5 separate regions of the Homo sapiens genome follow, and regions 1, 2, 3 and 4 are each linked to region 5. Evidence: fine-mapped expression QTL. A gene starts in region 5. Each other region holds a variant in brackets. All regions are shown on one strand. Distances are from middle to middle.

Evidence for each region. PIP is the estimated chance that this variant, and not a neighbour inherited with it, causes the effect.
Region 1: its variant is the best candidate, but not a certain one, in a credible set for the expression of ME1 in whole blood (INTERVAL, PIP 0.50).
Region 2: its variant is the best candidate, but not a certain one, in a credible set for the expression of ME1 in whole blood (TOPMed, PIP 0.77).
Region 3: its variant is the best candidate, but not a certain one, in a credible set for the expression of ME1 in whole blood (TOPMed, PIP 0.78).
Region 4: its variant is the best candidate, but not a certain one, in a credible set for the expression of ME1 in whole blood (TOPMed, PIP 0.90).

What each region holds. Positions count from the first base shown.
Region 1 is chr6:83,595,026-83,600,134 of GRCh38, forward strand. The region is part of intron 16 of SNAP91 (synaptosome associated protein 91); the gene reads right to left. Among named protein-coding and RNA genes, the nearest start is that of PRSS35, 85 kb to the left of the region's middle. The variant T/C (reference allele first, on the strand shown) is at 2,584.
Region 2 is chr6:83,464,997-83,470,105 of GRCh38, forward strand. No RefSeq gene overlaps it. Among named protein-coding and RNA genes, the nearest start is that of ME1, 36 kb to the left of the region's middle. The variant C/T (reference allele first, on the strand shown) is at 2,998.
Region 3 is chr6:83,456,272-83,461,380 of GRCh38, forward strand. No RefSeq gene overlaps it. Among named protein-coding and RNA genes, the nearest start is that of ME1, 28 kb to the left of the region's middle. The variant G/A (reference allele first, on the strand shown) is at 2,114.
Region 4 is chr6:83,582,470-83,587,578 of GRCh38, forward strand. All of the region lies in intron 22 of SNAP91 (synaptosome associated protein 91), which reads right to left. Among named protein-coding and RNA genes, the nearest start is that of PRSS35, 72 kb to the left of the region's middle. The variant T/C (reference allele first, on the strand shown) is at 2,298.
Region 5 is chr6:83,429,006-83,434,114 of GRCh38, forward strand. ME1 (malic enzyme 1) reads right to left here and starts at 2,046. Exons shown (of 14, transcript NM_002395.6): 1 at 1,872-2,046. The coding sequence starts at 1,949. RefSeq lists enhancers at 1,260-1,529, 2,150-2,319, 2,262-3,461 and a silencer at 1,750-1,939.

The DNA.
Region 1 (5,109 bases), 170 kb after region 5:
ACTAAGCATTCCTAAGTGTTAAGTCTTCACTATCCCTGAAAAGCATTTTCAAACATAACCAATAATTTTACTAAGGTTTACTAAGCATTCCTAAGTGTTAAGTTTACTAAGGTTTACTAAGTATGAGAGTATGAAACACTCTTACTAAGTTTACTAAGCATTCCTAAGTGTTAAGTCTTCACTATCCTTGAAAAGCATTTTCAAACATAACCAATAAGTTATTTTAAAGACATAAAGAGATAAAAATAGGGTATGATACCATAATGCAATTATATTTTTCTAGTTATTTGGAAAATAATCTATTTTCAACAGGTTAAAACAATATTTTCACATTTTAAGACTATAAGTGTATTATTATTTATAGAATATCATTAACATACGAGCAGCCACAGTTTATAAATGCCCATTTTACAAATGGCTGATGTGTACAGATGCTTCCCAGTGTGTTTCTACCAACAATGTTAGTTAAGGTAAGAAGTCTTTGAGCTTGCATAGAGATGCTATAGTTTCAAAAGTACAGAAGGAATCAAGCCATGATAAACATGACAGGCTTAGGAGAAGAAAACCCTGGAGAGTGGAGACCAGCACCCACCTAGAACCTGTCACTTACCTGCTAGACTTTCCATCCCCAAATACTGTCTTCCGCAATATCTACTCATGTTTCCTGGAACACTGTTCCTTCAGTCATGAAAATAACATGTCATATATACTTGGGAAGGGCTACACAGTACATGCTCTTCCTTGGTGATTTACTTAGTATATTAGGCTCTAGGACATGCTACTGTCAAGATACTTGTTTCTCAGTTTGACCTGGCATGTCCCAAACTGAGTATGAAACACTCTTTAGTAATGCAGAGTTCTAGTTTTATGTGGAATAACAAACATTAAACTAGATACTTACTTGGGTTAAAAGGCCCTTTACCAAATCACAAATATCCCTTAGAAGGGACAACAGGACATCAGTTATTCATATCTTATGGATTAATCTGATCTGATTGTTCCTCTTTGTTATACTGAGGAAATATATGTTCAATTTATTTATTATTAGAGACAGAGTCTTGCTCTGTTGCCCAGGCTGGAGTGCAGTGGCAATATCATAGCTCACTATAGCTTTGAACTACTGGTCTCAAGTGAGCCTCTGGCCTCAGCCTCCTCACGGACTGGGATTACAGGCCTACAGCACTATGCCCAGCCAGGAATATAGGTTTTGAGTGTCAGGTCAGCTGAGAGGCCAAATAAATAAAACTAAAGAATGAAGAATACATCAAGGGATAGAGTAGGCCTACTTTCTAAATGCCATGTTAAAGATACTATACTTCAGGACTTAGAGCAACACACCCTCTACAAGCAGGGCAGAAGAATGTAAGAGAAGTATGAAAAGATGTTGGGAGGGCTGTAAATATTTTGCCATGAGTCAGGTCAGTTGTTTTATTTTTTTTTGGTTCCTATAAAATTTGGAACTGAGGCCAATAATATTGCAAAGAGTAGAAACACATAGCAGTCATATATATTGCCATTATTAAATTTATCTGTAACAATCTTGTGATTTAGGTTCTACTGTCTCCAGTCTGTAGATAACACAACCAAAGCTTAAAGCGTGTGTGTTCTCATCACAAACAATAAGTGAGGTAATGCATCTATGTTGATTAGCTCAATTAGCCATTCCACAATGTATACACACTTCAAAACATCATGTTGTACATTATATATATATGTATATACTTTTTCAATTAAAGATTTTTTTTTTAAAAAGTCTGATGACTAAAGTTACACAGCAAGAAAATGGCAGAGTTAGGATTTGGCTCAGAGCTGTCTGAGCTTTATGTGTTTAGCCACTGTACTGCATTTTTTATGAAATATGCCTCATTCTATTATATTACTCCCTTCTTTATAATTGAATAAACATCAGTTACATTAGTGCCAGGGATCAAATAGATATTTATGGGCTGACCCCTTTAGGTTATCACTTATGTGTAAGGAGATAAAGCCCATATTGTTATAGCTACATCCTTAGAAGAGGGTTTTAAAAAATCCCCTTGTCAGCAAGATATCTCCTTTTAATTCTTCTCTTGTTACTTGAAACTAAATATTATCAACTTAACTCATCTACACCTGTCAGAAATTTTCTTAAAGGTAGGAGCTGCAGCTGCTCCCACCCCCAGCTGTTTGAATCTTCCTAGCCCCGAAGGAGACATGAATGAGTGTCCAGATGGTACCAGGCCCAATCACTGTCTGACTGCAGCCACAAAAGAGACCTTGAGTGAGAACTGCCCAGCTGAGCTCAGTCAGCCACCAGAACTGTGAGAGATAAAATTTGAATTTGTTAAAAAATAAACAAAACTTTTTTAAATATCTAGTTTTTTTCATTATAAATGGCAGCATTATCTTTCCAGTATTGCAAACTAAAGTTATTTCCAGTTCAGCTCTCCTTTTCATGTTACCCATTTGCAGTTAATTTCTACATTCTGTCAGTTTTTCAACCAGCTCTATTTCCTAGAAATGCGTGCTCCTGCTGTTCTTCAATTATGGACTCAGTCTAGGCCTTAATCCATAAACTGAGCTGACTGCTGCAGACTAGTCTTT[T/C]TTCCCCTTCCAGCACTCTAAGACAGAATTTTCCTCTCAAACTTTTTATCATATGACTACCTCTCTCAAATCTAAGAGCTGTTGTTTCCCTCAGCCTGACCTATTCTCTCTCCCCATCTACTTTGGCCACATAAGCCATCTTAAATCACACACTCAGCACAAAGGTTCCAATTGTTCTCAACAGCCCAAATGTCACATTCTGGTTCCTCTTTGTCTCCAAAGGTCCCAGGTTATAAGGCTCTAACATGAAATCTAGTTGAAAGTGTTTAATTATTGGTTTTAAGGAAGGTTGGTTAACTTAGTTTTTTGACCAACATGTACCCAATGTGATCAGGCTTGTGAGGTAAGTTCTTTGGTTTTCCAGTCACTTTGGTTTAATGTTTGCAGACTACTAACCTTATGAAGGTTTGCTCACAAATTGACACATTTGATTGAAAGGGTATCCTTGTTGGTGTGCAGAGGAATTAGCATCAATTTAGCATTCTAGTATTTAGAAAAACCCTGTGTTGTTCAAATCAATGTGCTATTGTCAGTAAAATTTGCATCAGTATAAAAATAGGTTATTTTTAAGGATTTTGCCTTTTATTTTTGTCAATATTTATAAATTTTACTAAATTTTAAAGGCGTAACACTGCCCTTGCAATCCTGTTCTGCATGATCATAAAAAGAAGATCTCATTTCTTAAAAGTTCACTTTAAAAAATGAAGCATTTAATAAATGTAGCTGACAAAAATTTTTTAATGACTTACATGAACTACCTACATTGAAAGGACTAAAACATTACTTGTGTATCAATAAGAATATTTCTGTTAAAAATCACAAAAATTTACTATTTTTAAAATGTGTAATTTAAATATAGTACTAAAATACATTAACAGTTTTAATATTTGATAGGGATGAAATTAAATAGCCATCCTTCTGAAATTAAAATCCATTAAGCTTTATTTCTAAAGAAATCTACTTAGTTGCTGTACATATTGCATAGGACCTCAAAAAGGCATGTTTTAAAGTTGTAAAGTTATGCTGTGTTAAACAAAACATAACTGGTTTTCTGATTATTCTAGAGTTCTACCACTTACCCATTGTAGAGAGACAAAATATTTAAAAAATGGCCACACAAAATGGCCAAAGAGATTTTAGCTTAGGTTTTTATTAAAAATTAAATCTCTGAATAATTTCTTAAAAACCAATGAAGGCATGAAAGAAATTACAGAAAATCACTGAAAATCACAAAACAGATAATGACATATATAGACTCCTGAACATAAAGGATGGAAATTGTATAGCTATCAGAAGCCAGGAGACAATTTATAGAACTAAACAGATCAATAAAATAATTATGATGTGATTTTCAGATGTAATTGTCATTGTACACTCATTTCTCAGCCAGATGACTGGAAAGGATATTGATAAAATCACAAGAACAGTCTCATTCTTTGACATTAAGTTGCATGATTCTCTGCAGTACTCATCCTTTAAGCTTATATTTAAAGCTACAAAGAATGCCATCATGAAAATTTTCTAAACATACAGATTTTTCCACTTGATGAATATAGTCAAAACAGAAATAAATGACAAACAAAAACAGCATAATGGCATGAAGAATATTTCAAAGAAATATCTTAGTCTTTATTATTCTAGAGGGCTATGCAGGAAGTAAGATAGAGTTGATTGATTTCTTTGAGGTAATCAACTCCTTATAAGTGGACTGGAAACAAAAAATCTAAACAGCTAAGGCGTAGAAATGTTTCAGCACAAAATTATTATGCATCCTGTCCATATTTTCCTTACTTTTTTTCTGTTAACACAAGCCTATGAGAAACTACCCATAGCTACATCAATAACAGAGGGTGGGGGAAGGATAGATTTTAAATTAAAACATTTACTAAGTGTATTACCTATTATTATTATGGAACTTTCAAGCTAGAAGGACTTTAGAGATCTTCTAGACCAAGTTTCCAATTGTATAGATGGGAGAACTGAGGCCAAAGGAGGTCAAGAGGCTTACCTTTAGTCAGGCCTAAACAACTTTGACAAACTCTATTTACCACCTGATTTAGATTTGTGGAAGGAAGAGGAAGTTGATTTTATAAATGTAAGCTAAAATTTAAATTTTTGGTTTCAAAGGATATAGGGGCATAAATGAAAACCTAACCCTCTATAGTGGGTGGCTCTTTTTAATTTAATTTTATTTTTGAGACAGGGCCTTGCTCTTCACCTAGGCTAAAGTGCAGTGGCGTGATCAGGCTCACTGTAACCTCCACTTCCTGGGCTCAAGCAATCCTCCTGCCTCAGCCTCCCAAGTAGCTTGGACTACAGGTGCTTGCCACCACAACTGGCTAGCTTTTAATTATTTTGCAGAGACAAGGTCTCACTATATTGCCCAGGCTGGTCTCAAACTCCTGAGCTCAAGCAATTCTCCATCTTGGCCTCCCAAAGTACTAGTATTACAGATGTGAGCCACTGCGCCAGACCATGGGTGACTCTTTATTCAAGGGTCTGCAATCCTTTTTCTCCTACTCTTTT
Region 2 (5,109 bases), 36 kb after region 5:
CTTTTTGCTCAACAACTGTAATAAATTCAGTGACGCTTAGCTGTCACTCACTTCTGGATACAAGAGGTTGGAGCAGAAGAGCTTTAAACAGAACTGCTTCCATGGCCCATCTGAGGCTATGGCACATTGTGTCATGTATGATTACCGGATAATTGCAGCAAGTCTTTCATGGCACATCCCCAAAGAGTGTCACACTGGCCCTGTAGCAACCAGCAGGCAATCTGACCATAGTGTACTTATGCCTAATCTCTATTTCTCAAGCATCAAATAAATTGTCCTTTTTATGAGATTGTATATTATCCTGCAGCAGGTCAAACAATTCTAGAATTTGGTCAACACTATTCAGATATTAGAGGTGTTCATTTGGAAAAGTATGTTTTTCATTGGCTCTGTGCTTAGCCACAGTGCAACCACACCCCCAGTCTGAGCATTATTAATAATAATGAAGTCTTAACATTATTGTCATTTCATAACTATTACTGGGCACCCAAAGTTTAATAATGAGTTTGTAGAATTACCAAGGAAAATTATACTTCTGAATCTTGGGCTGAGTTTTACACAGCCCAATCATTATGTTAAATGATTATTTCAAGCTTTAATTTTCTATTTTTTTAATGAATGCCATACATTACTGTCTAATAGAAACTATTCAATCAAGCAGTCTTCTAGTCTTGCCTAAATGCTTCCAGTGATCAAGAATTTTTACCTCTCTGACATATTCTGTTCTAAGGTAGTAGAGTAGTTTTAATACTGATGTAGTTCTGGTATATTCAGCAGTGGTTGGCACATAACAGAGCTAAAAATATTAACTCACAAGCTTTGGATTAGGTAGTTATAGCTTCAGATCTCATTTCTACTTCTTTAAGGCTGTGATATTGGAGACATTAATCTTGTAAGCCACACTTTCATCATCTATGAAATGTGGCTGAATATTTACCTTATAGGGCTTTTTGTAAGTACTAAATGTGAAGTGCTTAGAACAACATTTGGCAATACTGGGCATCAATAAATGGTAGTGAGATACAACATTATTGCCACCCTGTGATGAGTTCTCCCTTGTACCTCTCACTCCATGACTCTCACCCATTTGGGCCATTAGAATTGCAGTCTAAAGCTTCCAGTGCTTTAAAAGGGTGACTTCAAGTGACACAAGACTTCAGGTTGTCAAATTCTTCAAGAAGGATCTGGATGAATTAATGACCCAATTCCTCCCTACCCTGGTTCCTCCCATTCTCTGACTACATGAAGATTCTGAAGTAATCCATTGGCCCTAAGAGCCAAAAAATTGGTGCAATTCCAAATAAAAGGGATAAATTACTCTCCTCCTCTGAGCTGAGGAGGAATTAGAGAAGAAAGAATGTGAGACTTTAACTGTTCTCCAGACACTATTCACCTTGGTGCTCCCTACCCCTTACCCAACATGGTGAAACCCCATCTGTAGTAAAAACACAAAAATTAGCCGGGTGTAATGGCACGTGCCCGTAATCCCAGCTACTCGAGAGGCTGAAGCAGGAACTCAGGAGCTGTAGGAGGAACTCAGGAGGAGCCATCATATATCATATATGGTTTGCATACATGCAGATGTACCCGCCCAAGAAGGAAGTGAGAGGTGGAGTCTCACTTGTGCCTCCTTAACTAAGTCCCATACTCTGTTGCTGGGCTGGGGGAAGGAGACCCTTTTTCTTCCCACAAAAGCACCAAGCCATACTGTATATAACCGCATTGACTCAGAGGTGAGGCTTCATCTAATTCGCAGGAAGATAGTGGAGGCATTAGATGGATAAATTTGTGGGCATTGCACTGCGCTGTTTTCCCACAGCCTTGAGAGTCAACAGATTCTCTGAAGCATTTCCCAGGCTGTTATACTCTGGGAAACATGAAGCAGAGACTGTGAAAGGGCAAACTGTTAGGCCAAAGATCTTAGGCAGTTCCAGAGTTTTACACAGCCCAAGGAGCTCTGGGAATTGCCAGATATCTTCTTTGGCTGAGAATAGTCCAGGTACAACCCTGACAGCATGAGGACCTGAGGGATCCTCAGGCTGGGATATAAGGGTTTGGTGTGGAAACCTCAGCGATGACAGTGTGGAAGGCTGACTATCCTTGAGGACTGGATTGGCCTGAAAACTGAAGACCTCAACACCATATAACAAGAGTGGAAAGCCTTAGGAGGGCAAGGATTTTTGCCAACTTTGTTCTGTGATGTATGTCTGACATATAGGCACTCAATAAATACTTGTTTAAAGAATGGAGGAACAAAGGAAGGAATAAGACAGATGAGGACCAAGGATTATGTGCTCCCTTTCCACTGATGTCAAGGTGAATTAGTTAACAACTTCTGCATAATAATATTATTACAAACTTTGCCATTTAAAATAACACACATTTATTAATCTCATAGTTTCTATGGGTAGGGAATGCCAGGTAGGCTTAGCTAAGTACCTCTGCTTAGAGTCTTATAAGACTGCAGCCAGGCCAGGCATAGTGGCTGTGCCTATAGTCCCAGCACTTTGGGAGGCTGAGGTGGGAGGATCACTTGAGGCCAGGAGTTGAAGATCAGCCATGGCAACATAGCAAGACCTCGTCTCTACAAAACAATTTTAAAAATCAGTCATGCATGGTGGTTTGCACATGTAGTCCCAGCTACTCGGGAGGCTAAGGTGGGAAGATCACTTGAGTCCAGGACATTGAGGCTGCAAGTGAGCCGTGATTGTGCCACTGCACTCTAGCCTTGGTGACAGAGCAAGACCTTATCTCAAAAACAAAACAAAAAGACTGCTGAGGCTATGATCTCATCTGAAGCCTGACTTGGGGAGGACCCACTTCCAAGTTCACTCAGGTTGTTGGTAAATTTTATTTCTTTTGCAGCTGTAGAACTTCTCTTTTGTGGTAGTAGCCTCTTTTGCTGGCTGACTGTTGGCTGGAAGCCATCCTCAGCCAGAGGGCTGCCCACTCACCATGTGCAGTTCCCCAACATGGCTGCTTGCTTCCTCAAACCAA[C/T]AAGAGAGGAAGAAGTCGGCACCACAGTCTTATGTAACATAATCACACACATACAATTGAATACATGGAATCATTAAAATCCCATCACTTTTGCCATAACCTATTGGTTCAAAGCAAGTCATAGGTTCTGCCCACACTCAATGGGAAGCGACCACAGAAGGCATGAATATCAGGAGGCAGGGATTATAGGGGCCACCTTAAGATTCCTTCTGTAACACAGGGCACAGTTATTGTTTTCAGAATCAAACCTGGGAGAATGTGGAGGGGGAGAATCTTGAACTGACCTAGTTTACACCGAATAGCTTTTTTCCTACAATTGGGCACTTGAGATAAAATCTGATAGACTTATAAGAAATAAAATTACATTTTGCAGACCTTAATATGTAATTTTAAAATTTCTACCTAGCCATAGGAACTACTGACTTTATATTAGCAAATGTGCCTCCACTCTAATTTCTATCTCGTGGTCATATTTCTACCTGTTGGTGCCATAGAAATATAATTTATCTTTTACCTGATAACCCTTCAAATATTTTAACAAGGATACACTGTGTCTGAAAATTCCTCTAAGTTAGTATTCTTAGGCTTGTTAATCATGTATCACACAAAAGTTTTCTAGATTTTTCCAAAGTAGTTGCTACTATCTCTACATGCCCAAATATATTTGTCTCTTTTAAAGACAAGTGCCTAAAACTAGGTTTTGTGTTTTATATAAAAAATTTTATCTAGAATTATCTAATTTCTGCTAAATGGGATTATATTTCTCTTGTTGGTATAATGATAAAGAACTTTTAAAACAATGGGAATAACATTCTAAGAAAAACAACATACTATAGCAACAACTCTGAGGATGTAGTAGGAATTTGAGCTTTGTCACCTCTTTTAGACTCTTCATAAATGCTAACAATTATTGTGATTTTTATAAAGATAATAATTATTGTCAGTAAGAAATCATTACTGATAGCATCTACTTATAAAATGTAATTAATTAGTTTAAAAGTAAATATTATGTAATTAGAATGATTGCATACTATCTTATTTATAAAATAAGATAGAAAATGTGGAGAACATTACGGATGTTTTTAAAATGTGAGAAAATGGCAGATGGCATAAACATCAGTAAAATCCAAATGAAATATCAACCTATTCAGAAAATAAAACAATTTTGTAAGGATTTTGTATTTCTCACTTTTCTGTTATGTTACGCCAGCAATGACTTGGTTTCTGGTGATGTCGAAGATGATTGCATGTTAGACAACGTAATTCTAGCATTAAAGGTATTACTTTGTGCATCGACAACTGCCACCATCTTTCCAGATTTCTCAAATTGCATGAGTAGCTTGCAAGCTGACATAATTATGCTGCTCTCATTAGCAATTTAAGTACAGCTGGAAAAAGCTTATTAGGATCTTATACCAGTGGTTCCCAATGAGAATCCTGCAATGTCCTGCAGTAGCTAGGGAGCCACTATGCCCCAGGGATGTTTTGTCACTGCTCTTGAAATGCATTGTCTCTTTCTAAGCATTATACAGCATGGCCTCATGGGTACAGCTGGGGAATAGATCAAGATTTACAAGGTTTATTCCTGCCCCTGGAGCAGATTTCTGGGAAACCAAAAAAGGAACACATAACAGATATGTCTGTATCAGCAAAACTTAGTGGAGTAAAACTTTCCTGTTTAGTAACATGAAACCATTTTATAAGGGTTTAAATTTTGCACTTGCTTATTCTCAATTTTTATCCATTTTGTCTATTTCCCCACCCATATTTTGTTGGCCTCCCTCTATCACCCCCAAAGCTCTTTTTGTTTTGTTTTGAATTCTGGTAACATATACATGAAATTTATCACTTTAACCATTTTTAAGTATATAGTTGAGTAGTGTTAAGTCCATTTACACTGTTGTGTAGCCAATCTCCAGAACTCTTTTCATCTTGGAAAACTGAAACTCCTATACACATTAAACAACTCCCTATCATCCTCATCCCTGCACCGCAGTCCTTTGAAACCTTTATTCTACTTTGTGTCTCTATAAATTCCACTACTCTAAGTACCTCATATAAATGGAATCATGGAATATTTGTCGTTTTATGCCTGGCTTATTTCAGTCAGCA
Region 3 (5,109 bases), 27 kb after region 5:
ACCTTTCTAGCTATTATGTAATGGGTCCTATCTCCTTGGCATAAGATTCAGAATAAAAAGTCAGTATGTAATACCTCCCTATTATAGGCCAATTATGAAATAAACTACTAAAATCTATTTATTCTTATGTGTCAGCATGGTGGGATCCAGGACCAGGAGTTCCATTATTCTGCCTTTGGTTGAATGCAGCACCCCAAACTCCTTATCAGAGAGTAAGTATAATTCATTCAAAATGATTCTTTCATATAAACATCCTCATCATGTTATAAAAATTTAAGCATCTCTTGGAGAAACTTATCACTATGCAATTCCCAGGAGAAAATTAAAACTTTTGAAAACAACTGAAAATAGATGATGGTGACCAACAGTGGAGAAAAAGACAAGTCAGACATAGGAGAGAATATAGTGTCTGGGAGAAACCAGCCCACAGCTGTATACCCACAGCTAAAAAATGTGGAATTTCTGATGGCTGGAGCTACAGTAGCTTATTTTCAGACTAAGGCCAATTGTAGTATGCCAACATCCTCATATTCTGCTGAAACACATTTGCCAAAATTGTTCTTTCCTTCATTATATATGTTACTTTTCCTTTTCTCTTCTGTATATCCCACATTTTTAAATATATAATTCACTGTCAGAAGAAGATATAATTTCTTTTGAACACATGTAATATATAAAATCATGCCTTTACATCACAAGAATCTTTAGAAGATGTTCTGACTTAGTCTTTATAAAGGTTTTTATTTTAACTCCTCTAAGGAAAAGAATGCATCAATAACATCATGCAATAATAGATTATTATTAAATGTATTGAGAGTAACCCAAATGTTTATGGTTTTACAATTTGGCATTTTTATTTGAGTAAGCATAAAGAAGGTGCTTATTTCCAAGATTAAATAACTTCATGTAGATTACAAAACAGCCAGAGTATCTTGTAACCATGTAACCATGAGGAATATTAACACTTCTGCCCCTGCAACACCCATACCAGCAATTATTTGTCATGTTCTTGACTTTGAACACTCTTCCACAATTCATTTTGTGTCCCCTGAAGGAGACTGAAAACTAAACTAAAATCATTGGTGCCTGTTTTATACTAGGCATTTTACTAGGCACTTTCATATACATTATCTAACTTAATTCTCACTGCCACCATCCAAAGTGAGTACAAGCGTCTCTAATCGCCAGTGATAATTTCTCTTTGGAGAATGATCCAGATTATAGACATTACATTTAATAGCAGCAGTTTTTCTGCAGATCAAATGATGATGAGGTAATTTGAGCCTACATTGTCCAGTGTGGCAGGCACCAGTCACGTGGCTATTTAAATTTCAATCAATAAAAATGAAAAATTCAGTTTCACAGTCTCACTTGCCACATTTCAAGTGCTCAATAGCCACATGTGGCTAGTGAGTAGTTTTACTAGTGAGCAGTTCTTGCCACTTTTACAACCCAGGAATATCTTGTCTCAAGGACCTGAGAGCAATTTCTTTGAAATATAGTTATCAAAGGATATAGTACTCCTATCTCCTAGTTCCTGTGGGATAGTAGGAGCCTAACTTTAGTGGGCATCTGCTCCAAGTTGCAAAACTACCTTCTAACATAAACATATGAGAAGTTTATTTTTACTTTGGATAAAGCCAATTAGCAAACACAGATGGCCTAAGACTTTCCCCTAATGTCCTCCAGTACTGTCCACCAGTTCAACCGAGCCCTTAAAAAACCCTACCCCCTCTGCCTCAGTGGAGTCAAGTTCAGAGTTTGTTCTGGCCTCTCTCCCCTACTGCAATAGCCTTGAATAGAGTAATGTCATCCTGGCCTATTTTACTTTGCCTGGTACAATTGTTTTTTGTTTGTTTGTTTGTTTGTTTTGTTTTGTTTTGTTGTTTGTTTTTTGAGACGGAGTCTCGCTCTGTTGCCCAGGTTGGGCAACAGATCTCGGCTCACTGCAAGATCTGCCTCCCAGGTTCACGCCATTCTCCTACCTCAGCCTCCCGTGTAGCTGGGACTACAGGTGCCCGCCAGCACGCCCGGCTAATTTTTTGTATTTTTAGTAGACACGGGGTTTCACCGTGTTAGTCAGGATGGTCTTGATCTCCTGACCTCGTGATCC[G/A]CCCGCCTCGGCCTCCCAAAGTGCTGGGATTACAGGCGTGAGCCACCATGCCCAGCCACCTGGTACAATTTTTGCTTTAACACCAGTTTTCAGAAAATGAAAATAGTAATTCAAAATAGTGTAAGCCGAGTGCAGTGGCACATGCTGGAGTGCAGTAGTCACAGCTACTTGGGAGGATGAGGTGGGAGGATCACTTGAGCCTAGGAGATCAAATGTAACCTGGGTAACAGAGTTAAACCCCATCTCAAAAAAAAAGTGTAAGTCTTAATTCATACTGAAAATAGTTTTAATGTTTTCTTAAGCTGAATGATCTACATAAGTAATCATATACAGGTAATAATGTGGCAAAGTGAAATGATTTGATTACAGAAATAAATCTAATTCCAGGATTTAAGGATGTAGAGTTGCAATTACATAAGCTATACCTGACACCACTTCAGCATCACACATATTTATCACCCGGTTTAGCTGTTCTGCTGTGAATGCATTATGGAAAAGGTAGCCAAGTTTTTTGGTCTAGGAATACTTTCTTCTGGAACATGGCCTTCCTCTAGCTGAATATAGCAGAAGACCCCAGCTAGGTTCACTGATGGGTCTTTCTATAATAGCAATCTATTTCCATTATGATTCTCAGGCCCAGCCAAGGCCACACACATTCCAAATCTATACTCTCAGGTCTTCCTAGAATTTATATTCTCTGCAAATTCAAGGAATTAATCATAGTGTCTTTCAGCTTTTTCTCAGAATTTTCCCAAAGTTAAATCACTGTTAATAAAACATACGTTCTTCACAGAGAGTAAATCCAACAGTTTGTAGAGAGACAGCTCTTCAGGGTGATTTTCTTCTCTTTCTTAGTGGCATCCCGGGGGATTTACTTCCATTATCATCTGAGCACAAAAGAGGATCAAAAATTTTGGCCACCGTTTAGCTCTATTTCCTGGTTTAACTACTTTTTTTTTTTTTTTTAACCAGACTTAAAAGAGATGGTTCTTTGGGGAGAGGGGATGGTACAAGAAGAATCACAAATTTTCATTAAAATCCCTGATAATAATTGGCTGTATTTATACATTTCTGGTGATTTATAATTTTCAGAAAGCTTTCATGTTAATTCTTTTAATCCTCCCAAAAATCCTATGAGGTTGGTGTTCATATATGCCCTATTTTACCAAAAGAAAACAAAACAAAAAACTAGGAAACTTAGAGACACGGAGTAGCAATCCAAGCTTACAGAACAGTTGTTTGCCTCCACTGTCCCCACTTCTCACTGCCATTCTGATTTCCAGTTCCAACCCATGGAAACTTGTGCTTGGGCTCCTACCACTTGACTAAAACTACTCTCAACAAGGTCTCCAGTAACCTCTTTGTGGGACCCTTTCAGTCCTTATCTACCCAGACTATCATCAGCACTTGACTTTGTGGACCACACCCTTGCTTAGTTTCTGGGACACTACACTCATTTATTTTTTTTTTTCTCTTGCTTAATCTGTTTCTCTTTTAAGGACTCCACTTCCTCTATCTCAGAGCTTCCCAACAAACAGGAAACAAAGAGATATTGTTTCACCCATGTGGGACCTGGAAGTACAGAACCTTATAGCTGATTGCTATCATTAGAAGCATTTTTATTTTGTGTTCCTGTGATGGTCATCCAAGAAAAGTGGATCTGAAAGTGTGCCTCCCTCCGTCCCAGCATCATATGGCACTCACTGTTCTATTGAGTAGATCTGGGAGAGGCCAAGTTGGACATCAACTTTGGTAGCCCAAAGAGGAGAGTGCACAGCTCAAGATACAACTGCCTGTGCAGGGGAAGCCAGGTAGGGGTTCTTTCCTATTGGAGCTGCAAGCAGGATAAAATTCTGTCTTCAAATATATTAGTGTTTATTTCTTATGGCACAATGTTTAGAAATAAAGAAATATATAAAATTTGTGCTGACTACAATTTTAGTAGTGTTCTTTCTAGCTATAGTATGACTATCCTAATAATGTGTTTGTTCATCAAGAGAAAATTTGATTGTATTCAAAATCATCATCTTTGCAAGAAATTTACTATTACATTTGTCACTGAAAAAAAGGGATGATAGATTCTTTAGATATAATTCCAACTGTCATAAATTGTTAAGTAGTTATAAAAAATATTCTCACTTTTTAAACTACCTACTCATATGAACATTTCCCACCAATGGTAATGATCACATATAATTAGAAAGAAAGTATACCAATTTCAAACATAAAATCTGATATTAAAAAGTTAGGTTAAATATTATATCAATTCAATATTTAGCACCCCTACTACTTTTTAAAATTTTTCTTATTATAGTTATAGAATATAAAGAAAGTATTAAGAATTGTGTCCCTACCCAAAAAAGATGGGTTAAAATCCTAACTCCCAGTACCTCAAAATAAGACCTCATTTCAAAATAGGTTCTGATATGGTTTGTATGTTTGTCCCATCCAAATCTCATGTTGAAATATGATCCTCAGTGTTAGAGGTGGGGCCTGGTGGGAAGTGTTTGTCTCAAGGGGACAGATCCCTCATGAATGACTTGGTGCCATCCTCGAAATAATGAGTGAGTTCTTGTTCTATACATGCAGGATCTGGTTGTTTAAAAGAATGTGGCACCTCTCCCTCCTCACTCCTTCTCTTGCCATGTGACACTTCCTGCTCCCTTTTGCCTTCCCCAGTCATTGTGAACTTCTTGAGGTCCTCACAAGAAGCAGATGCCCGTGCCACACTTCTTACATAGCTTGCAGAACTGTGAGCTAAATAAACCTCTTTTCTTTACAAATTACCCAGCCTCAGGTATTCCTATATAGCAATGTAAAAACAGCCTAATACAGGGTCATTACAGATGTAATTAGTTAAGATGAAGTCATACTAATGTGGAGTGGACCTCTAATCCAATATGTGTTCTTATAAGAAGATAGCCATGTGAAGACAGAGAGACACACAAGGAGAACACCATGTTAAGATGAAGGCAGATACTGAATTGCTGCAAGTC
Region 4 (5,109 bases), 150 kb after region 5:
TAGCAGTCAGTGAAACAGAGAAGCTCATTTCTGAAAAGTTGTTCAAGCATAATATTTTGAAATCTGACATGCATTAATGAGAGATTTAATTTAATTAGAAATAAGATAACACACAAGTATAACCTTATTAAGAGAAACTATGGCAAGCAAATCTATTATTACAATGGAGTATATAAACAAATAAGGTATCACTAGGTTTACAATTCAGACAGTCTCATTACATTGAAATTTTATGTTTCTTCAAATCATAATATCCGGTTTCTAGAAAATGTTTACTGCAAATTATAATAAAATGCAAAACAAATCATAAAAATACATATCAAATCTTTAACATCTATCATACATGTTCTAGCCCCACTGCTGTTACCACCAGTGCAGGCCCCCGCAACCCTGCTCTCTGGATTCATGAACAGTCACGGAGTGGGATGGCATCCTGTCTCTAGTCTAGATCTCCTCCAATCTAGTCTTCACAGTGCAGCCAGAATGATCTTTCCAAGTGGAAAATGTTGACAAAGTTACTTCTCCAAAATCTTCTATCAGCTTCCCATCATTTTTCAGTTCATATAATTTGAATTCCTTCGTGTAGTGATCAGGTCCTTCTGTCTCTACTCACTGGCCCCTGCAGCAAAGCAGGCTGCAGCTGTGATCCGCCACTCGCAGTGTCAGATGCCTGCTCTGGGAGGACTTCCTTGCCCTCACACTGCTACCCACTACCAGCTGCACCCCACCCACATCCCCATATACATGCCGAGTATCCTCAGCACCTGGTACATGGCCCCCTGCTACTCTCATTACATGTATCTATCCCCACTGCCCCGACTCCAACCCCAGATGGCTTTTTGAGGCCAGGAACTGTGTCTTCTTTTCATGTTTTTTCCACTAATATCCTGCACAGTGCCTAAAACACTGAATTAATGTTTATTAAATGAAGGACACTTTTGAATATAAAAGGTGAGGACAAATCAAAGACTACTGTAAAGTAATCCAACCTCAGATTAAGTATTTATCCTTTGACGGCTGGAAGCAAAACATTTCTCTCAATCAACAGACAGAAACAGAAGCAGAGATCACTCTGCATTGCTACTGAACAAAAATATACAGCCTCTGAAGGAAGTGATTTCTTAACAAGACACTGGATGATATTCTATTATAAAAGAATTTATTACTACCAGAAGTCATTCCTACATAAAGTTTAAGTATATATTCCTTTCAAATCCAGCCACATTGTCTCTTCTTCACAAACTGCTTGCAAAAACAATGTTTCAAAAAACATCCTTAAGTTTACGTTCCATAGAATCGATTTATAATTTTGAAAGTGATTTCCACTAAAATTATCTACTATTTTCTAAAGCAGGTGGCAATGCTGTTTGAGTTATGTTATTCCTAGAAATTGACAGTGATGTGGGTTTAGGCTTTCCTCATATGTGTATGAAAAAATTTTAATTTGGAAAAAAGTTTTTTATTAGATGATCTTTACAGTTCATGATGGCTACTTTAAGTGATTTTAGTATTTGAATGGCATAAGTATCATATAACTTTCTTTACTGAAGAAGACGTTCTCTAAATCAGTAAGAGCTTATCCCAGCCAAGGTAGGTTAAAAGTAATTATTTTTGTGAATGTGACCATTTTGATTTTAGGAAGATTGGTGGCTGTATTAATGTTGATTTTTAAAAAACATTACCCCGTACCTCAAGTTGGAATTTGTCTGGTAAATTTAGGCAACTGTTCTATGTTGTGATTCTCTTTCTATAGGTGAATGTGGAGAAAACTTGACTCTTGACTTCTTAAAACTTGGCCATGGAAAGGACAATTTATTTTAGAATCACAGCATATTAGTGATGGAAAGGGCCTCAGGATCATCTGATTCCTTCCTGTCATCTCATGGCTAGAAGAAATGACTCAAAGAGAAGTTAACACACTGGTAAGATTCAGTAAAAAGAGGAAAAAGAGTGCATTTACCTAGGACACTCTGCTTAGTGCTATTTCTACTTTATGCTAAGATCACATCTATAGGTGAATAAATAAAGCTGTTCACTGAAAAAAAAAAATAGTGCCTTCTCTAAGAAAATTAAAGGTAAGCCAACATTGGCCCAGGGCTCACCAAGTGCCAGGCACTGTTCTAGGTTTCCTTTTTTAGGGTGAACCCTATGAACGACACGAATGGCTGATATTTGACTGTTTTGATCCTAGAAAATCAGCAGTTTTAAATGGTTCAATCTAAAACACACATTAGCTTATCTAATCCTTATAACAACCCCATGAGGTTCAAAGATGAGAAAGCTGAGGTCAGAGATGT[T/C]AGATAATTTGTCTAAGGTCATATGAAAGCAAATGGCAGATCCAGGATTCCAAACAGGAATTCTCCAGAGTCTGGATTCTTTGCCACTGTACCACACAGCCTCTTTCTCACATCCAGAAAAAATGCTGTAGTGGTAACCTTCCCATACATTTATAAAATTGTCGAGATCTGGCAGGATGACTTTTTCCCATTATACTCGGTTCTTATGAAGTAAGTGCCCTCACAAGCCTAGAATAATTAAACAGCTATTAAGTGATATAAAAGGACCAACTGATTATCTCAAAAAAATAATTGCTATAATGAAGAACTAAACAGGAACATTACAGTCATTCATGAGGCATTTGAGGAATTCCTCCTGGTAACTAACTGAAAAGTTTTAGGGCCCTGGAATAGAGTTAATAGGAAAACCTAAACAACTAATCTTTCTATGTGGTTCTAATTTACATTAAGAAAGACGTTTAGCTGGGTATGGTGGTTCATGCCAGTAATCTCAGCATTTGGGGAGGCTGTGGCAGAAGGATCACTTGAAGCCAGGAGTTTGAGACCAGCTTGGTCAATATAGCGAGACCTCATTTTTATATATCTATCTATATATATCAATATATATAAATTAGCCAGGGGGCATGATGGCATGTGCCTGCAGTCCCAGCTGCTCAGGAGGCTGAAGTGGGAGGATTGCTTTAGCTCATCAGTTCAAGGCTGCAGTGAGCTATGTTCACACCAATGCCCTCCAGCCTATGCAACAGAGGGTGACCTTGTTGCTTAAAAAAAAAAAAAAAAGAAAGGTGCTCTATGGAATGGAATTGGAAACAGAGTAAGGCTTTTGTGCATCCTGTAATCATATTTGAACTGTCCTACACTATAACTGAAGAGCCAACTGTTTTCAGGTACTCAACCATCTGTTGATACACTGCTTTTTAATCACAGATGATTAGTCTTATGAATGTGTTATTCTAAAGGGGAGTAGCCCACACTCTTAATGAAGTTCTATTGATTCAGATATATCAAGTCTGACTGTCATAGTCTACATAGTCTATCTAACACATCATATTGTTTCAGTTGCAGGAGTACAATTTTTTTTTCTTTCTTTTTTTTTTTTTTTTGAGATGGAGTCTCGCTCTGTCACCAGGCTGGAGTGCAATGGCGCCATCTTGGCTCACTGCAATCTCTGCCTCCTGGGTTCAAGCCATTCTCCTGCCTCAGCCTCCCAAGTAGCTGGGATTACAGCGTGTGTCACTACACCCAGCTAATTTTTGTATTTTTAGTAGAGATGGGGTTTCACCATGTTGGCCAGGATGGTCTCGATCTCCTGACCTTGTGATCTGCCCGCCTCGGCCTCACAAAGTGCTGGGATTATATAGGCATGAGCCACCGTGCCCGGCCACAAGAGTGCAATTTTAAAACTACTGCTAAAGACACTTCCACACAGGATGATAGAATTGATCCTCTGTAGACTTTTACCTTTTATAGGAAATTGTTACTTTTTAATGCCACACTGGGCATGTTTGTATTTTAAATTCAGTTCAAGGACTTCTGTGGCTCATTTTAAGCAATTAATGTGGTTAAGAGAACAAATGCAAAACTACAAAGGGCCTCATAGGCTGGACCATATAGTCCCTTGTCTTTGCAATTAAAGATAGGATGTGAAATTCTCTTATACTAGTACAGATTTATAGTGCAGTCACCCTAAAATTGTGTCTATGATGGAAAAACATGGTTGTCCTGCTCGATGCCAACCTCAGATGTTAGGCATATTCCTCAACACACCTAACTTCCTTAACAGTCCATTTTTACCTTTGTCATCCAGTAGTCTGCCTCTAGCTTTCAAACATCTGTATTTTCAGTTGGTATATTTTGAGCAGAGTTTGACAGCTTTACTCTTCACTGTATGAAATATTTACTTTTATTATTTAAAAACTTAACTTTCAAGTTTTCATTCAGATGTTACCTGAGATATGGATAATATCTGTATCCTACCAGTAATCTCAATGGCTTGGAAAGAATTACTCATTGTTGTTATGGATTCTCCCCTCTGCTTCCCCCCACCCCCATTATTCCTTCCTTTCTTCATTATTTTGATAATGATTTTTCTAGTCTGGCCTCTTTGGAAGTTGTCCTCTCCAGAATTTTTTATCATTTCACTATACTGCATGCACCAAACACCTTAAAATTTTTACTCAAGGGGTAGAAGACGACTAAGGCAATATTTCAAGTGCTGTTTAATTCTGGAATTGGTATTATCTGACAGTTCTAAAACTGAATTTGAATAAAGAAGAATAGTTTTTATGATAGATAGGTTCATTTTCAAGACTATCTAGTTAGTCTTTGTTTTCAAGTTTCAAAATGATACCAATTTTTAACAAAGCTTTCGCCTCAATTTTAAAATGGTTCTTAATGTTTAGTTTAAAATCTCTAAAATCATTTTAAAATTTAATTATATCATATATTTATTGCCTTATCTTTATGATTCACATGTAAATGTATTCACTCAAAAAAATCTAATCTTAGGCATGGGGTAAGAGTCCTTAGTCCAGTGACCAAGGTTCCCTTTGAACAGTCTAAACCTCCCATGACAGTGTCTGCATATTATTTTTCTTTTTCATTCTTTCTCAAAACAGTTTTATTACTAAAGGCAATCACAGGATTCTAGAGAATCTTTTTCTCTCTTCTCTCTCTTTGATTCTGATCATATTTGTGGGCTTGCTATGTATGACTAGGCTCATTTATTTATTTTTTTTTAAAAATCTTCTTAGTTTCAATAGACTGTGGACTTAGCTGATCCCTCCCCCAAATAAACACAGACACAACTATA
Region 5 (5,109 bases):
GTAATCCCAGCACTTTGGGAGGCTGAGGCGGGTGGATCACGAAGCCAGGAGATCGAGACAATCCTGACTAACACGGTGAAACCCAGTCTGTACTAAAAGTACAAAAAATTTGCCGGGCATGGTGGCGGGCGCTTGTAGTCTCAGCTACTCGGGAGGCTGAGGCAGGAGAATGGCGTGAACCCAGGAGGTGGAGCTTGCAGTGAGCGGAGATCGCGCCACTGCACTCCAACCTGGGCGACAGAGCGCGACTCCGTCTCAAATAATAATAATAATAATAATAAATTCTTGATGTAAGCATAGTAAAGGCAATAATTACTCTTGCTCAGGGATTGCTCATGCCATCTACATACTCTTAATAGACACTCTTGCCCCCAACTTGAGGAAAATCAAACAGGTTATACAACTCATGTGGTCCTTCTTAAGTGTCAACCCACAACTTGGTCATAAATTACAGTAGGCAGGTGACACATACAAGTCACAAATAGTTTTGTCACATCAAATTTTACTTTTGTTCTACTGAAAATAGGTGGCAAACCTGCAGAATAATAAAAGAAAAGAAAAAACAATCAAACTAGCAATTAAATTTATTTTAAAGAAAGAAATAAGTTGGAATTATTTACAATTTAATAATGCTACATGACGGCAGATAGCACACAGTCATAGATTTGTAAAAGGTGCCTGTCACCACACACACAAAAAAAATCACTCACACTGACTATAACTTGTTAAATAAATCATGTCTTTAAGTCATTAATATGATCAACAAATCATCAGGAACACGACAAGGAAAAAGCTGAGCTTCTGTTCTTAATGTGAAATGCAGTCCACCAAAGAGACAACCAAAATAACTAAACAAACCTCTGTGCTGACTGATGGCATTTTCAGACTCCTGAATAAATAGGAAATGTCCAAAGCGCACGCACACACACACACAAAAGGAACAATCCCGAGACAAACCTGGCTGTAAAATAAGTGTGGAAGCAAAATGATAAATTCGGAGGTATTTTTTATTTGAGAGACATCCCGAGTGCTTATATTGCATCACCAGTGAAGGAAAATGAAATGTTACCAGGATCCGAAAAGGAGTCTCTGAACAGGGTGTACACTGAATTCCCCTTTAATAAAAAGAGAGCAGCTCTAAACAAAATTTTTTTTTAACTTCCAGAAAGCCAAATTAAAAACAAAACAAAACAAAACAAAACAAAAGAAAGAAAGAAAAGAAATGGCTTTACCCACAGTCCCATGTCTGGGACAGAGTTCTTCTACCAAGCCATGCAAAGTGTCCAAGACAGAGGCCACCCACCACGCATTCCCAGACTCTTAACCGTGTCACTCCAGAAACCGAGAGGACTTGGATTTCCAGATTGCTAACGTGATCTGAAGGCACTCAGTACACGTTTCTGTCTGGGCAGGACCAGTTGAGCCACTTCTCGCCTTATCAACTTCCAATAATTGCCACACTGTGTGTGCAACCAGTAAGTGAGTGGCACATGGAGTCTGACCTGGCACTCCATTCACACACTTTGTCTGATACTACTTTCATTGTCTGGGCTCTTGTTTTTGGAGAAGAGCTGCCGAAAAGTATCACCTTTTCCTCTATCACTAACCTTTACCTTTACCTCTATCCCTAACATGGGATGCCGAGGTGCAGAGGCACCAGCACTGCCCTGCCATCACTCTAGTGGATACGGACCCGATTAGGCGTCCTTCTTCCTTCTGCCCACACCAAGGCCCCCCAGGCCGCGGCCGCTCACCGGGAACCTTCCCAGGGGAGCGGCGGAGGGGCGAGGCCATGGTGCGGGGACCTGCAAGAGGGCCCTGACCCTGATAGAGAGGGGCCGATGGGCGGCCAGGTGGGCCTGCGGGTTTACCTTGTTGAGGTGAGGGTTCCGTGTCAGCAGGTAGCCGCGCTGATGGGTGTGGCGGCGACGGGGGGCTTCGGGCTCCATGGCTGGCGCCGGGTTCGGCGGCGGGGTCAGGCCGGGGCGGGCCGCACGCGCGGTGCAGGCGGCGGATGCTGCTGGGGTGACGGTGCTGACTGCAGCTGTGGCGGCGGCGGCCGCACTGGGAAAGGCCCAGCGGCTGGGGGCGGGCGTGGGTGGCGAGAGGGGGTGGACGCGTCGGGAGGGGCCCGAGCGAAGCCGGTGTCCCCAGCAGGGCAGCCTGCGAGAAGCGCTGAGTCATGGCAGGAGATCATCCGAGCCGGCGTGTGAGGAGGAGGAGGAAGAGCGAGTCCTGGCAGCGCTGCTGGTGGCGGAGCGGGGGTGGCGGCCGGAGCCCTTGGCTCCATAGGGCCTCTGCCCACCATGGGCTTATGATCACCGCTGTGGTCGCCTCTCTCCATGTGGGCATGCCTAAACGCAGTGCACTGGGTGGCTCTGCTGACCCCAGAGACCCAGGGCGGGGGCAGGGAGCGGGGAGCGTCAGGCCAGGATCCCCCTGCCCGGGAAGGCTGGAGAAAGTGCGAGAAGATGCCAGAAGGTGCGAACCTGAGCGGTTCAGGCAGAGCCGGCGGTCGCTCAGACACCTAGGGGGATTACAGGACGGAAGGACTCGTGAGGGGTCCCCAGAACTGTTGACAGAACACCTCGACAGGCTGAGGAGAATCAGACTCGTCTCTCCTGTCTTGTTAGCGTCTTGGAAGCCCTCTTTCTACAGATCCACAACCTTCGCCGTGCCATCCAGGATGCCGGCCATGCCCGGGGCCCTGAGGCCGGAGGGAACCAACCTTGACCCAGAATGCCGAGGCCCAAGGGAACTGGGAGGAAGCCCAGAGAGGAGAGCTCAGGCGCCACACCTGTCAGTTTCTACAGATTTTCCACCGGAATTGTATTTGAATGTCAATAAGATAAGAGTCAAGGTGTTAGGGTGCAAAGGCCCAATGAACAGTCCTGTTTATCTTGTATATTATTTCTCTGGGAGTTCTAGAAACCTGATGTTCAAGAACCACTGCTCTCTCTGAATAATGATGAGTAAGCAGTCTTTCAGGCCTTCCTCCCAACCTCAGGTGATCCGCCCGCCTCCGCCTTCCAAAGTGCTGGGATTATAGGTGTGAGCCACCGCGCCGGGCCATTTTTTTATTGTTTTATTGATATTTATGCTTGGAGGTTCATGGACTGGAGGAATAGTCAGATCATAGCCAAAAGGAGTGCCTGTCTGATAAAAATAAATTAATAGCAACAGACACTAAAGCCTTCTGTGCCCCAGTTTCCTTTTCAGTTAAATAGGATTGCTAGTTTCTGTCCCATTTGTCTCTGCATACTGATATTACAAAGGATAGTGTTTGAGATTATTTGCTGATTTTATATCTCCATATACTAGACACACATCCAATCACAGTGTTTTCATTTCTAGTTATGTTAACTTTGCCTTATCAGAAAGATTTCTTACAGTAATTGTATTTTGTCCGTATTTACATTTAGAAGCTTCTTTGACCTCGCCTGAATTATCTAGAATTCGTTGTTTTTATAGAGAATATTTTCTAGGCATCACAAAGTTCTTTTTGAAAAAAATCCTTGAAGTTAAATGACACCTTTCATTGTTAATTCTATACTCCATAAATACTCAATCCTACAACATCTAAGAAAAAGGTGTACTTTACACAACTCACTCTCCTGAATTAACTGAGACACATTACAGTTAGGGTGTTTTATGTGAGAGGAAACAGTTTAACAGCTGGCATGGGAGCCAATTCAAGCTGCTTAAGAAGAAACAAAAATGTTAGTACAACAGACCCTTATTATAATAAAGTACTTATTACATGAATTTAGATATACTACCTACCTGTTCCTGTTTCTGAGATTTAATATCTACAGATAGGAAAAGTGTTATAAGTACAGGGAGTAACCCACAAAGAGTATATGGCCTCTCCCTCAAAGGCAACATTACAAGGGGATTACAATATCCTGCCAGTAGTAGGTAAAGTTCACATCTTTCATCTGTATGTTTATTTTAATTATTAAAATAACCGCCGTCATCTTGAATGAAACAGGATAAGGCCTAGCTGAAGAAGCCATTTAGTACATTCATATGTAGTTCCAAGAATACTAGAAAGAACCTATTTTTCTACATAAATGTTAGCTAGAATATCAAAATTTTCAGTCTTTTTTAAATAATAATCTCATAAGGTTAGGTTTTATTTCCAAAAACGTAGGAAAACAGATGCAGAGAAAAAAACTGCTTTAATTTGCCTTGTAACAAACTGTGGTTGCACTGTCACTCTGAAAGCAATTGGTAATGTTAAGAATGGGTATCATTCACAAATTAAGAGACTAAAACATAGATTTCTGTTATACACAGGTGAGAATGCCATCAGTCAAAATCAGATTTTTCTTTCCCAAGTTATAGTTTAGCACACAAAGAGCTTTTACAACATAAAATATGATTGTAATAGATACTCTGATGTAATGTCAGTTGAGATTGCAAGTATAGAAAATTCAGGAAATAACTCTTAGTACATACAGCAATTCTAATATTTTACTTTCATGAGATAAAAAAGATTAATAGAAAAAATACATATCTAGGTGAGGATTTATAATATTAACTAAATGATTCTGTATTTCTTCACACAAAAAGCACACTACTACTATGTCTTCAAAATCTAGTGTGCATTTTATAACACATCTCAATTTAGACACCAAATTTTTATCAGAAATTTGATCTGTATTTCAATTTTATAAAACTTACATTTGCAATAGTAGACTCTCATACCTAACTTGTTGCAAATATACCTTAAAGTTTTCCAATGACTAAATTGAGTATCTGTTTTATATTTAAATTAAAATCAAATACAATTTAAACTGAGTATCTCATTTGCACTGGCCACATTTCAAATGCTTAGTAACATGCCAGTGACCATCGAATTAGAGAGCACAAGTCTAATCCAATGCATTTGGGCCCTTAATTAAATGTTTTAAATAAATAAAGATCAAATATACATACCTGTGTTATTGTAATGTTCATACAGATGTTGTTACATGAATCGCAGAGTAACTCAAGTTATACTACCTTATTAGTTTCACATATATAGCTATTTATAACCGTAAATGCATGCAACATACTGATTTTCTTTACAAAGCACTGATTCTTTTCCTTCTTCTCAGATAGTCA